4 linked regions of the Homo sapiens genome follow. The protein of the gene in region 3 purifies or fractionates together with the protein of the main gene of each other region. This does not show direct contact. Each region holds a gene or a part of one and is shown on either strand. Other genes may lie near its edges.

What was found. Proteins that work in one complex are often made in the same cells at the same time.
Region 1: the proteins of FMR1 (region 3) and BCL7B purify together in Homo sapiens (affinity purification with mass spectrometry; 3 studies listed by BioGRID and IntAct, with this or other methods). This does not show direct contact.
Region 2: the proteins of FMR1 (region 3) and SERBP1 purify together in Homo sapiens (co-immunoprecipitation; 2 studies listed by IntAct, with this or other methods). This does not show direct contact.
Region 4: the proteins of FMR1 (region 3) and IGF2BP3 purify together in Homo sapiens (affinity purification with mass spectrometry; 2 studies listed by BioGRID and IntAct, with this or other methods). This does not show direct contact.

The regions. Positions count from the first base shown.
Region 1 is NC_000007.14:73,544,191-73,547,690, forward strand, and holds part of BCL7B (B-cell CLL/lymphoma 7 protein family member B), read right to left. Parts: intron 1-3,500. UniProt on the Homo sapiens protein: Positive regulator of apoptosis. Plays a role in the Wnt signaling pathway, negatively regulating the expression of Wnt signaling components CTNNB1 and HMGA1.
Region 2 is NC_000001.11:67,423,903-67,427,402, reverse strand, and holds part of SERBP1 (SERPINE1 mRNA-binding protein 1), read left to right. Parts: intron 1-1,117; coding exon 1,118-1,268; intron 1,269-2,179; coding exon 2,180-2,320; intron 2,321-2,425; coding exon 2,426-2,515; intron 2,516-3,080; coding exon of another isoform or gene 3,081-3,125; coding exon 3,126-3,203; intron 3,204-3,500. UniProt on the Homo sapiens protein: Ribosome-binding protein that promotes ribosome hibernation, a process during which ribosomes are stabilized in an inactive state and preserved from proteasomal degradation.
Region 3 is NC_000023.11:147,935,919-147,939,418, forward strand, and holds part of FMR1 (fragile X messenger ribonucleoprotein 1), read left to right. Parts: intron 1-585; coding exon 586-695; intron 696-1,547; coding exon 1,548-1,682; intron 1,683-2,180; coding exon 2,181-2,243; intron 2,244-3,500.
Region 4 is NC_000007.14:23,313,492-23,316,991, reverse strand, and holds part of IGF2BP3 (insulin-like growth factor 2 mRNA-binding protein 3), read left to right. Parts: intron 1-3,338; coding exon 3,339-3,470; coding exon of another isoform or gene 3,471-3,500. UniProt on the Homo sapiens protein: RNA-binding factor that may recruit target transcripts to cytoplasmic protein-RNA complexes (mRNPs). This transcript 'caging' into mRNPs allows mRNA transport and transient storage.

The DNA of each region.
Region 1 (3,500 bases), on a different chromosome or scaffold from region 3:
CGCATGGATCACCTGAGGTCAGGAGTTCAAGATCAGCCTGGCCAACATTGTGAAACCCTATCTCTACTAAAAATACAAAAATCAGCCGAGTGTGGTGGCATGTGCCTGTAATCCCAGCTACTTGGGAGGCTGAGGCAGGAGAATTGCTTGAGGTGGAGGTTGCAGTGAACCAAGATGGCACTACTGCACTCCAGCCTGGGCTACAGTGCGAGACTCCATCTAAAAAAACATAAAATAAAACAAAAAATAAAATAAATAAATAAATAAATAAATAAAAATACAAAAATGAGCCTGGCATGGTGGCATGTGCCTGTAATCCCAGCTACTCTGGAGGCTGAGACAGGAGAATCGCTTGAACCTGGGGGGTGGAAGTTGCAGTGAGCCAAGATTCTGCCACTTCATAACAGCCTGGGCGAAAGAGCGAAACTCCATCTCAAAAAGAAACAAACAAAAAAACCCAAAAAACAAAATGATCACCCCATGTTTATTTTTACCTATAACATTTGTTTCAAGAAAGATGTAGGTTATAAGTGCAGGGCAACCACAGTGGGCAGGTAAGCACCAGCTTGCAACAAGAAAGCCCAAGGGCCAGGCACAGTGGCTCATGCCTGTAATCCCAGCACTTGAGGAGGCGGAGGTGGGAGGATCCCTTGAGCCCAGGAGTTTGAGACCAGCCTGGGCAACATAGTAAGACCCCATCTCTACAAAAAAATAAAAAATGAGCCATGTATGGTGGCATAGGCTGGTGGTCCCAGCTACTGAGAAGGCTGAGGTGGGAGGATCGCTTGAGCCTGAAAGTTTGAGGCTGCAGTGAGCTATGACTGTGCACTCCAACCTGGGCAACACAGTTAGACCCTAACTCAAAAAAAAAAAAGCCCAGAGTAAATCCAAGCATATGAAAATGAGAGCATCCCAAAAGCCAAAAGTTTAAATCTGAGTAGCCTCAAATTTACCAGTTCACACTTTTTATACATTTCCGGTAGATGCATTATATTAGTAACGTAATTTTTGTTAATAACTCAATTTTTTGTTTGTTTTTTGAGACAGAGTCTTGCTCTGTCACCCAGGCTGGAGTGCCATGGCACAATCTCGGCTCACTGCAAGCTCCACCTCCCAGGTTCACGCCATTCTCTTGCCTCAGCCTCCCGAGTAGCTGGGACTACAGGCGCCCACTACCATGCCCAGCTAATTTTTTGTATTTTTTAGTAGAGATGGGGTTTCACCATGTTAGCCAGGATGGTCTCGATCTCCTGGCTCCAGGATGGTCTCAATCCGCCCGCCTCAGCCTCCCAAAGTGCTGGGATTACAGGCGTGAGCCATCGCACTCGGCCAAGGAAAGGGGGTTTTCTAGCAGCATCTACTCCTGTCTATACACAATGCCCAAGAGATTTAACTGCTTGACCTTTGACCCCTGTGGGTAATGGCCAGAGCCAGGCTGGATGGGGGAATAAACAGTTGCTCCAGAACCACGCCCCATCAACTCCATGAGTTTGGCATCCTAGAACTTCTTGGGATGGCTGCTCTCAGATAAAGGCAGAGTCCATACAGTTGGTGCTAGGAGGTTCCCTGGAGCCAGAGAGGACAGCAGAGAGCAAAAGGGAGAGGCTGAACCCTGAGGCTAACCTCAACCTCCTAAATTCATTTACAGAAAGGAAAACTGGCCGGGCGCGGTGGCTCACGCCTGTAATCCCAGCACTGTGGGAGGCCGAGGTGGGCCGATCACGAGGTCAGGAGATTGAGACCATCCTGGCTAACACGGTTTTCACCCGCCTCCACTAAAAATACAAAAAAATTAGCTGAGCGTGGTGGCGGGTGCCTGTAGTCCCAGCTACTTGGGAGGCTGAGGCAGGAGAATGGCGTGAACCCAGGAGGCAGAGCTTGCAGTGAGCCAAGATCGTGCCACTGCACTCGAGCCTGGGTGACAGAGCGAGACTCCATCTCAAAAAAAAAAAAAAAAAAGAAAGAAAAACTACGGATCAGGCTTCCGTCCTCCTCGTAGTTACACATTACCAGCCAATGCAATTGAGAGTCCCAAGGGAATAAAAGGTGAGTGCACGCATAAAACTCACCAGAGATTGGAGGAACACAGGCACCCTGATAAACAGAACAGTCTGTACCAGAAGGAGCAGAATAACTGAAATTAAACATGGATTTGCTCAGAAAGATAAGGATAATATTGAAAAGTTGTTTTAGCCAGGGGCAGTGACTCACAGCCTGTAATCACAGCACTTTTTGGGAGGCCAAGGTAGGCAGATCACTTGAGGTCAGGAGTTCGAGACCAGCCTAGCCAATATGGTGAAACCTGTCTCTACTAAAAATAGAAAAAAATTAGCTGGGCATGGTGGCACATGCCTGTAATCCCAGCTACTCAGGAGGCTGAGGCAGTAGAATCATTTGAACCTGCAAAGTGGAGGCTGCAGTGAGATGAGATCATGCCACTGCACTCCAGCCTGGGTGACACAGCGAGACTCTGTCTCAAAAAAAAAAAAAGTCGTTTTGAGGAAGAACCAATTGAGGCAATTTGTTATGAAAAATACAATTGCTCAAATAAAAATTAAGTGAATGAGGTTAATTGAAATACATACAGCTAAATAAAAGATTAATGAGCAAAAACTGCGTTGAGAAACTCAGAATGCACCAGGAAAGACAAGAAATGAAATGAATGAGAGAAAAGTTAAGAAATAAAGCAGTTGGCCAGGCGTGGTGGCTCACGCCTGTAATCCCAGCACTTTGGGAGGCCAAGGCGGGCGGATCACCTAAGGTCAGGAGTTCAAGACCAGCCTGACAACACGGAGAAACCCCATCTCTACTAAAAATACAAAAGTAGCTGGGCATGGTGAGGCAAGCGCTACTCGCGAGGCTGAGGCAGAAGAATCACTTGAACCTGGTAGGTGGAGGTTGCGGTGAGCTGAGATTGTGCCATTGCACTCCAGCCTGGGCAACAAGAGCAAAACTCCATCTCAAAAAAAAAAGCAAGCAAGCAAGCAGCTGCGTGGGTGCAGTGGCTCACACCTGTGATCCCAGCACTTTGGGAGGCCAAGACAGAAGGATCGCTTGAGCCCAGGAGTTTGAGACCAGCCTGGGAAATACAGCAAGACCCTGTCTCTACAAATAATTTAAAAGTTTGCCAGGCGTGGTGGCACGTGCCTGTAGTCCCCGTTACTTGGGAGGTGGAGACATAACTATTTCTTGAGCTCAGGAATTTGAGGCTACAGTGAACCATCATTGCACCACTGTACTCCAGCATGAGCTATGGAGTGAGACAGTCTCAAAAAAAAAGGAAAAGAAATATTACAGGATATTTTGAGGGAATTCCTAGGAGATCAAATATAGAAGAAATGCTAAAGTTTCCAGGAAGCCAAGTAGATCACCTACAAAGACTCAAGCATGGGAATAACATCACATTTCTTAACAGCGACACTGGATGTACAATTCAGTAATAGCTTCAAAGTGCTGAAAGAAAATAATTTTGAACCTAGAATTTCATATACAGGTAAAAT
Region 2 (3,500 bases), on a different chromosome or scaffold from region 3:
CTTTATGACTTTGTCAGAAATTGGGAATTAGAGCATACCAACAATCTTAAAGTCATTAATTTAACCATCAATCTGTTGATCCTTATGGGCACCAATAATTTAAATTGGTTGCCTTTGTGGGGTTTCAGACATTACAGGAAAAAAGTAGTAAAGGGGGAAATTAGTAAATGCTTCAGCTATCACTTAGTGTCACAAGTTTTCTTATTTCTTACATGTTGCTTAAAAGCGGTCTTAACGTGTGTGTATTTGGTTTTTAAAGATTCTTTGAAAATAAAGATAGTTGTTAGGGCAAATTTTTTAGAGGACTCTCTCCATGCATAATAAGTAACTGTTTCCTAACTTGGAAGTACTTAGGGATGTGGGAGTGTGTACAAACATATATACACTTACATGCTATAAAATTTTAAACTTTAATAGGGGAAGATGGCCCTTTTTGTGTGCCTGTAGCTAAGAAGACCAAAAGATGACACTTTTTCTGGTTAAATGGCTGTTTTAAACTGAAGTGATGTTCTCTAATAATCCTAAATGCCATATTTTCCTTTCAGATTTGTAATTTTATAGAATTATGAGTCTTAATTGCATTTTTTTTTCAGATTAGATAGAATAACATAGTGCGGCCCTCACTTTTGTGAGGGGCCATATCTAGTGAGTGTGTTGATTTGCTTGGTTATTTATGAATGGCTGCTGGTATTTTCTTTGGTATTTTAAAAGCCAAAATGTATTGCTTGCCTAAAATTTTTTAAATTTAAAAGTTTTTATTAAGAGACTATCTTGGAAAGTGACGGGAATAATGGTTGCCCAAATGATTTCCAAGTCAGTTATAGAAAATGCTTTTGAGGGGGAGAACTTGGCAAACTTAAATAGAAGTTTAAAATAAGTTTATTGTTTTTATTTTATTTATTTATGTATTTAGTCGGTGGTATGGATTGGAAGGTTTATTGTCTTTAAATGGCAGTTTTCCTAAGGTACTTTGTTACACATTAGAGTTGCCCAGTGTTTGCTTTTTTCCAACAGGAAATGGTAGTGGATTGGAAGAGAAGCAGCTTTTGACAGTCCAGGCCTAAAGTTTTTGGATTGCAAAAATAATTTGCTTATGCAGGTTATCTTATCGTTTTAGGAATAAGACGAGTTGGAAGAAGACCTGATCAACAACTTCAGGGTGAAGGGAAAATAATTGATAGAAGACCAGAAAGGCGACCACCTCGTGAACGAAGATTCGAAAAGCCACTTGAAGAAAAGGGTGAAGGAGGCGAATTTTCAGTTGATAGGTAAGTTGTTTCTTGTTTTTGAGCCAGGGTCTTGGTCTAACATGTAGGCTGGAGTGCAGTGGTACAAGCTTGGCTCACTGCAGCCTCTGCTTCCTGGGCTCAAATGATCCTCTCATCTCAGTCTCCTCTTGAGTAGCTCGGACTACAAGGTCACGCCACCACACTGCTAATTTTTTTTGTAGAGCTGAGGTCTCACTATATATATTGCATTGGCTGGTCTTGAGCTCCTGTGCTCAAGCTGTCCTCCTGCAATATTGGGATTACAGGCGTAAACCAAAGAAGTCTTCATATTTTGTTACTTTATAGAGTCACATTTTAATGTTAAGCTATAAATTGGGCATAATTGCCAGGTAGCAGTCTGGCTAATTGTTTCTATTAATTTTTCACAGAAACATCTGTATGTGTGCATTGTTAAGCTTTAGATCTTTGGGTAACAGTTCAAACTTAGGTCTCTTGTAATGGAAACACTTTGTTGAATTGATAACCAATTTCTTTTTCTTTCTCTCTCCAGATACAGAGTTAAAAGGAAAATACTGTTAGTTGAAGGAAAATACTGTTGGTTTATTGTTTATAGCAAATAAATTACTTATGCAAGTTAGATGTGTTTAATTTTTAAGTGTATTGGTAAATAGTGATGGACTGGATTATATGTGCAATGAATAGCAGTGGAAAAGTATATGCACTGGTAGTAATGCTTTAGAGTGCTAAAATAGTTTTCTTGTTTTGGGAGGCTGTCTTGTTCTGGTTTCCTTTGTGTTTAGAAACAGACTATTTTGAATTTTCTGAAGTGTATGTATTTAACTATTGGTTTTTGAGCCAGTAAACATGTTCTGTATTTTTGATCTTTTGGATGAATTTTCCTCATTTCTTCTGGAAACCATGGAAGTATAATTTATTTGTTTATATTATAGACCGATTATTGACCGACCTATTCGAGGTCGTGGTGGTCTTGGAAGAGGTCGAGGGGGCCGTGGACGTGGAATGGGCCGAGGAGATGGATTTGATTCTCGTGGCAAACGTGAATTTGATAGGCATAGTGGAAGTGATAGATCGTAAGTCTTACTGGTTTTTATTTTACTTTAATATTTTAATCTATTTAATAAACAAACTTTGAATTTCTAGAACTAAAGAGTATTATGTTAACTCAGTTTTGTTAGTTCTTTTTCACATTACAGTGGCCTGAAGCACGAGGACAAACGTGGAGGTAGCGGATCTCACAACTGGGGAACTGTCAAAGACGAATTAACGTTGGTATTCTGATTTTCTTAAAAATTCTATACCTAACTAGAGGTTAATCCATACCTCTGTCAAATTTTACTTGTCTCTGAGATAAGAATGAATGCTCTCTTCTGAGAGTTACTATATTACAAGATAATGTCTTATGGGATGGGTTTGGGTTATAGTATATTGAATGACCGGTTTTTTAATATTTCGATATATTTGTTACTCATTTTTTCCCCCCCATATGTATTTGTAGCTTTTCCTGAAACCCCACAATAAGGTTATTTGGGTATTCTGATTATCTTAGTGTCCTTAATAGTTCCTATTCTAGCTTTTGACTTTGTTGTCATTACAAAATTTGATAAGCTAGTAAAGCTTCATTTTATAATTAACTGCCTTGTTCTGTTACTTTTTAAGTATGAAGTATATGAACTAACTAGTTTATATTGTTTACTTTTCGACGTCTTCTGGGGAGTATATTTAGTAAGAAAGGAGTTAGAGAATGTGAGAGCTTATGGTATTTTTGTATGAAGAACTTTTCAGCTACATGTAAATGGACCTAGATGCCTTTCTTTTTCTTTCTTTCCTTAGAGAGTCCCCCAAATACATTCAGAAACAAATATCTTATAATTACAGTGACTTGGATCAATCAAATGTGACTGAGGAAACACCTGAAGGTGAAGAACATCATCCAGTGGCAGACACTGAAAATAAGTAAGTGGTATTGCGTGTAATAGTAATGACCCAGAATTGAAAGCACTGGAGTTTTACCAATAAGATAACCCATAGATTTAATGCTGTTACTTGATGGCTTTTTGTTTTTGACAAGGGAGACTTACTGTACCCTCATCCCTCAAAGAGTATTTGAAAGAATGCTTTTTTTTTCTTTTTTTAATAGAGACAGGGTCTCACTATATTGCCTAGGCAGGTCTCCAATTCCTGGGCTCAAGCGTTCCTCCTGCCTTGGCCTCCCAAAGTGCTGGGATTACAGGCATGAGCCACTGCACCCAG
Region 3 (3,500 bases):
ACCTTGAAGAATTTGTATTCCTTTTGGATGTATGTATAGCTGCTTAAGCCACTTTCAGACTTAGATTATCTTTTATAAATGTGCCTTCCATACAGAATTCTGAAAATATTTACCATGGACAAAGAAGCAGATTTAAATCAGGTACAGACAAGAATTGAAAGTGTTGAATAAGTGAATATATTTCCCATTCTCTCTACTTTTTTCTTAATTCTTATAGAACTTTGCAGAAAGAATGATACATACCACAGTACCAGCAAGTTTAAAGCGTACCCTTTTGTGCAAAAATAAGAGGTTATCTTTGAACTGCCTTAAAAATCCAAAATTACCCTATCAGTTTGCAAGTATTAATCAACTCTGGTACCTGACCAAAGGAGTTTAAACAATGATGTCCTAATTAAACAGAAAACCAGATTAACCATCTTGTTGAAAAGAGTCTCTACTTTGGTTTTGAAATCTTACAATTCAATACATACACATACACATAAAAATATCTATCTATATGAATGTAATAGTTTACAGTAGGGCTGTGCTTACTGCTTTGAGGTATGTGTTTTTAAAACCAAACTTGATTTATTTATTTCTTAGGCAAAGTAATAGGAAAAAATGGAAAGCTGATTCAGGAGATTGTGGACAAGTCAGGAGTTGTGAGGGTGAGGATTGAGGCTGAAAATGAGAAAAATGTTCCACAAGAAGAGGTATGTTACAGTGCGAATATTTTGTGGCACATATAATAAAAGTAAAAGTTTTTTATGTGATATGTTGAGGACCTCTAATATGTGCATAAAGTGAATGCAAATATTCTGATTATCAAGCATGCCTGCTGTAATTAATGTTATAATTGTAGATAATGGCCCTTCTCTGTCCTCTAATGCAGTGAGTTTGGATTAGTCACTTTATTGAATTCTTTTTTCCTGATCTTTAAAATGGGTAGTTATAAATTTTTAAATATGAGACATACATCACTGGGTCGAGTGTTAATGGCAATTTAATAAAATAATATATATGTAAATGCTTCGTAAAGCACTTTGTAAATGTTAATGTTGCTGACAAAAGCAAAATTGGAACACAGGTTTTCTGGCTTTCATCTTTTCACTTTTTTAGTGTGGGGATTGTGTAGTATGTGTGTTTATTCTGTGTGCTTTAAATTTATTTCTGTGCTTAATATCTCTTCCCCATCCTCCTTACCTTTAAATTCTGTAACCCTTTTATCTTCATAAATATATGCTTTTTGTAGCAGCTTTTAAAGTATTTGCATGGGGTAGAGAGGTGAGGATGCACCTTTCTGTGCAATAGTACTCTTAAGATACTGTCTCATCAAAGAGCCGTAATTTTCACATATTGTCTAGCTTTCTTTTTGAAAGATTCTTTTAGCTAAAGTTAAATCTTTTTTTTCTGCGTACAATTTGTATTCGGTAATTTTATAAACCAAAACTGTTTATAATAACTTACATTTTTTAAAAATATGATGATTGATAACACTAATAGAGCTAAATAAAGTCTTAAATTGGTCCTTTTTTTCTCTTTTGTGTTTTCTGTTTTTTACCAAGGAAATTATGCCACCAAATTCCCTTCCTTCCAATAATTCAAGGGTTGGACCTAATGCCCCAGAAGAAAAAAAACATTTAGATATAAAGGAAAACAGCACCCATTTTTCTCAACCTAACAGTACAAAAGTCCAGAGGGTAAGAATTACTTGTCACTTTGAATTACAATACAAGTAATTTGTCTCAGATGTCACAATTGGTATTTTGGATGTTTTCTCTGGTTAGACTTGTAGGCTACTTATGTTCTATTTTTTTTCCAAATGTAATTGCCAGCTTATGAGATACTACAAATTAGTGTGATACATACTTTTCAATTTATTCACAGTAACAACTCTTATGCCATAAACACAAAATAATGGGGTTGCATTTAGTGGTCACATTTTTCTTTTGACAGTGGACTCTCTTTTTTCCATGCCTTCTCTCTTTAAATTTTGCAGGTATCGTAGCTCAAAATACACCTTCTGTTAGTTGCATTAGTTACTACTTGAACCATATTTTAGAAACTAATTTTCTCTGTTTGAACTAATCTGTTTAGAAATGGGTTTAAAAGTCCTGCAGTGAAAGTCCTGCGTTCAGGCTTCTGTGTATCGTTTGTTATAGTTAATGACATCCCTTGCATTCCTTATACTGCTTTAGGTGTTAGTGGCTTCATCAGTTGTAGCAGGGGAATCCCAGAAACCTGAACTCAAGGCTTGGCAGGTAGGAAAACATTCCTTGAGAAATACACTTTCAGTTTATATTTTAATGTTTATTCCCCTTGTTAACAAAGATTACAAATGATCCTCAGGATTAGGGACTGGAGGGAGGAGTGTTTGTGGGTATGTGGATCCATTGCCCTGGAGTTAAAGCTTAAACACCTTCATGCCGCTTGTAAGGCTTTTCCTAATTACTTGTCTAGTTATCATCTTTAAATTATCTTCTCCCTTGCACTCTAGAGAACCTTAAGCCATACTGAAGTACTTTGAGTTCTCTGAACATTCTCGTGCTTATTTTGCTTCTAGACATATGTACAGGTTTACTCTGCCTGGAATGCTTTTTCTCCTCCACATGTCACCTCATTTTGACCTTATTCCTTACAAAGCTTTCCTTGTGTACTTGCCGAAGATCCCCACCCCCTTGACTGGTTCAAGAGCCTTCCCCTTCTGTTTTGCAATGTGCTCACCCCTAGCATAGCACTTAAACATAGATGTTTATTTGTTGATCTCCTCAACCACATTGTAAGTTCTTTGAGGGCAGGGAGAGCTGGTGAGAACTGTTTATGGAAAAAAATGTTGTGGACTCATGGATTAAAAGCAAAGGTGCCATTTTACAAAGAGGACTATAACGGCAAGTGGATTGGATATGTCTCATTGCCGGGCAGCCCATTATTCCAGAACACAGAGTAACTTTTTTCTGGGGTCCGTACTAAAGGCCATCATTCCATTCTTGCCTTTCTTCATTTTAATTTACTATTCAGGTCTACTCGTGAAGTGCTTAAATTAGAGTGGCCCTTGGGGTACTCCAGCAGTTTAGACATGTTGCAAGAAAAGATATTCGTAAATAATTTGCTCCGAAGTCAATCTAACTAAATCTGTTACATAGGATTTTAAAGCTATTTTGGTGATATTTGACCCAGAGGGAAGGGTGTAGCATTCATTCCATCACATGGTATTTTGGGAAATAATACAGTTAAAGGCTTTTGTAACAAATAAAGCTTGTTGGAGAAAAACCCAACATGCAGAAATGAATTGCCAGTTATTAATTTGCACAATTGTTTCTAGGTTTCCCTATAACTTGTGACAAGAAGTAGTTGTTTTTTTTTTCCCTCTTAATATATATATATATGGGCTAGGAGTACAGACATTTAGCATATGCCTTTTAAAAATCTGTTCTTATGTTAAGTAGTGTCCATAGAGAGAAGTTCAAACTTTCCTTGTGATTCAGCCTTTTAAAATTTTCAGAGTACATTATTGAAAT
Region 4 (3,500 bases), on a different chromosome or scaffold from region 3:
ACCTTTTTCTGTAAAACCAGGGATAAGAGCACCTACATCCTAAGGTAGTTTAAGGTTTACACAATATATGAAATGTTTAGAAAAGTGCCTAACACATGGGCAGCACAAAATTAGCGTGCTGGGGGTATTCAACAGACTATGGATGAATCAGACTAAGACCATGCCAAATTCATAAATATATTCCTTTTAGTGTATGATTTCTCCCACAAAATTTAGTATGGGTGTCTTGTCTTAGAACATTTAGTGGCTGTGTAAGAAGACAACTATTTAACCTTAAGCTGTAGTTTTTTTTTTCTCTTTTTTTTTTTTTTTTTTTTGAGACAGAGTCTCACTCTGTCGCCCAGGCTGGACTGCAGTGGCGTGATCTCAGCTCACTGCAAACTCCACCTCCTGGGTTCAAGCGATTCTCCTGCCTCCGCCTCCCGAGTAGCTGGGATTACAGGCATGTGCCGCCACGCCCAGCCAATTTATTTTTAGTAGAGATGGGGTTTCACCATGTTGGCCACACACTCAAACTCCTGACCTCAAGTGATCCGCCCACCTTAGCCTCCCAAAGTGCTGGGATTACAGGCATCAGCCACTGTGCTCCTGGCCAAGCCTTAGTTTTTTTAGCCTTAAAGTGTAACAGTAACTAGTAACAGTGCATACAGTTCTCTCCCCACCCCACCTCTCTCCCTTAAATCAAACAAAAAAAATCACTTTCTTTGACTTCTATTTTCTCTGGGCCATTTTTTCACTAAAAACCCAAAGCTGCTTTCACTTATGTGAAGAATGGGAAACGAAGGAGGTGCTTTGAGATGTGGGTGGTTAGGTGAAGAAAGAAAATCATGTGAAGAAATTTATTCCTTCACAGCAGCCTTGTGATCCAGGCAGTTCAAATCTTAACTCAGAATTGTTGAAAACTGCTTCCTATCCCAAACTCTCAGGGTCACTTTTAGTTTGAAATCTTAAAAGATAAATACAAACATGTCTTTCCTTGGTGCTGAGCTTTTAGTCTTATAAGTAGAATTACTGTCCTGCAACTCCTATGATGTTTGTATGATAGGAACTTCAAAGTTCTTTCCCTGTATTCACTAATAAAACTCATGTTTTATAGTTAACTTAAATGTAACACTTAAGCCATAGTAGTTAAATTTTATTTATGTGATTGGTGACAATGCTAAATGAATGTTTTACTTTAGAGATCTAAGGAATGGTAAACCACCTACCCCGTATTTTTCCTTACAAATTCAAGAGCTTCAGTTTTGGAGGATAGTGTATATCCCTAGTGTCTTTTTGACTGTCTTAAGTAATAGTAATATCTACGTCATTGGCCTGAGGCATTAAGGATCATTGGAATATAGGGTATCAAGATGAATTTTGTTTTGTCGGTAGTGCCCTAAAATGAGCTCAGCTTTCTGAATCAGTGAACGCGTGTTGGGTACTATTGTTTTTTGTGGTTTACCCTGGCAGCTTGTCAAACCAACTCTCAGGCTCCTTTCTGCTTTGCTGTATGTAATAGGTTGTTTATATATAATAGGTTGTTTATATAGTTGCATGCAGTAGGTGATAGGATGTATTGACTCTAAATATCAGAAGTGTCTTGGCCAGGCGCGGTGGCCCACGCTTGCTATCCCAGCACTTTGAGAGGCCTAGGTGGGTAGATCACTTGAGTCCAGGAGTTCCAGACCAGCCTGGCCTACATGGCAAAACTCCATCTCTACTAAAAATACAAAAATTAGCCAGGCATGGTGGTGGATGCCTGTAATCCCAGCTACTTAGGAGGCTGAGGCAGGAGAGTCACTTGAACCCAGGAGACAGAGGTTGCAGTGTGCTGAGATCGCACCACAGAGAAAGAGACTCTGTCTCTAAAAAAAATAAAATAAAAAAATAAAAAAAAATAAAAGGCAGGGCACAGTGAGTGGCTCATGCCCATAATCCCAACACTTTGGGAAGCCAAGGTGGGTGGATCACCTGAGGTCAGGAGTTCAAGACCAGCCTGGCCAACATGGTGAATCCCCGTCTCAACTAAAATAACAACAAAAAATTAGCTGGGTGTGGTGGCGGGCACCTGTAATCCCAGCTAGTTTGGGAGGCTGAGGCAGGAGAATGGCTTGAACCCGGGGGTCGGAGGTTGCAGTAAGCCGAAACCATGCCATTGCACTTCAGCCTGCATGACAGGGTGAGACTCTGTCTCAAAAAAGAAAAAAGTGTCTTACCTTGATGTTGTAGCCTCTTTAAAATATTCAAAGGAAAAACCACCTTTCTAAGAGTATGAAACACATTTAAATTGAAAACATTTTTCTCAGCAGGTTTCTAACTGGCCCATGTAGATGTGAGCTTGACTTTTAGTGAGCTTGGCATAGCTGACTCTGCAGTTCTGTCTCTTTTGCTCAAAAAAAATGTGACCAGGTGTGGTGGCTTGCACTGGTAATACCAACACTTTGGGAGGCCAAGGCAGGACTCTTGAGCCCAGGAGTTTGTGATGAGCGTGGCAACATAGCAAGACCCCCATCTCTATAAAAATTAGTGGCGCAGTGGCTCACACCTGTAATTCTAGCACTTTTGGAAGGCTGAGGTGGGCACATCACTTGAAGTCAGGAGTTCGAGACCAGCCTGACCAACATGGTGAAACCCCATGCCTACTAAAAATGCAAAAATAATTAGCCAGGTGTGGTGGCTAGTGCCTGTAGTCCCAGCTACTCAGGAGGCTGAGGCAGGAGAATCACTTGAACCTGGGAGGCGGGGGTTGCAGTGACCCAAGATCGTGCCACTGCACTCCAGCCTGGGCAACAAAGTAAGACTCCGTCTCAAAAAAAAAAAAAAAATAAGTCAGGTGTGGTGTTGCATGCCTGTAGTCTGCTACTCAGGAGGCTGAGGTAGGAGGATCGCTTGAGCCCAGGAGGTTGAAGCTGCAGTGAGCTATGATTGTACCATTGCACTCCAGCCTGGACAACAGGAGGACCCTGACTCCAACAAAAAGGAAAGAAAAATGCAACTGATGTCTCATGGCCAGCATGAGAAGTTTTACCTATCACAATTTTAGTACGAATGGCCATTTGCCCACAAAAATTCGTTTTTATTAGGTTATTAATTGCCTTTAACTGTTTTCATCAGAAGAATATGGTTTATCCTTCTTTCACCAAGCATTCAGTTGCCTCTACTGTGATGGGCAGTAGTTATTGTCAACCTTTTAGGACTTCTAACTGCTCTCTTCTATGTTATTTTCAACAATCTATGAAATGTAGATGTATCACTGCAAAGGGCTATCCCACTTGGATTTGGGCCATCTTTCAAGTTAACTGACCTTTTCCATTTCATACATGAATGACACTAATAGGATGTGTTTTCATCTGCAGGCTCAGGGAAGAATTTATGGAAAAATTAAAGAAGAAAACTTTGTTAGTCCTAAAGAAGAGGTGAAACTTGAAGCTCATATCAGAGTGCCATCCTTTGCTGCTGGCAGAGTTATTGGAAAAGGAGGCAAAACGGCAAGTACTTCAGCAAAACCTGTGCAGTGG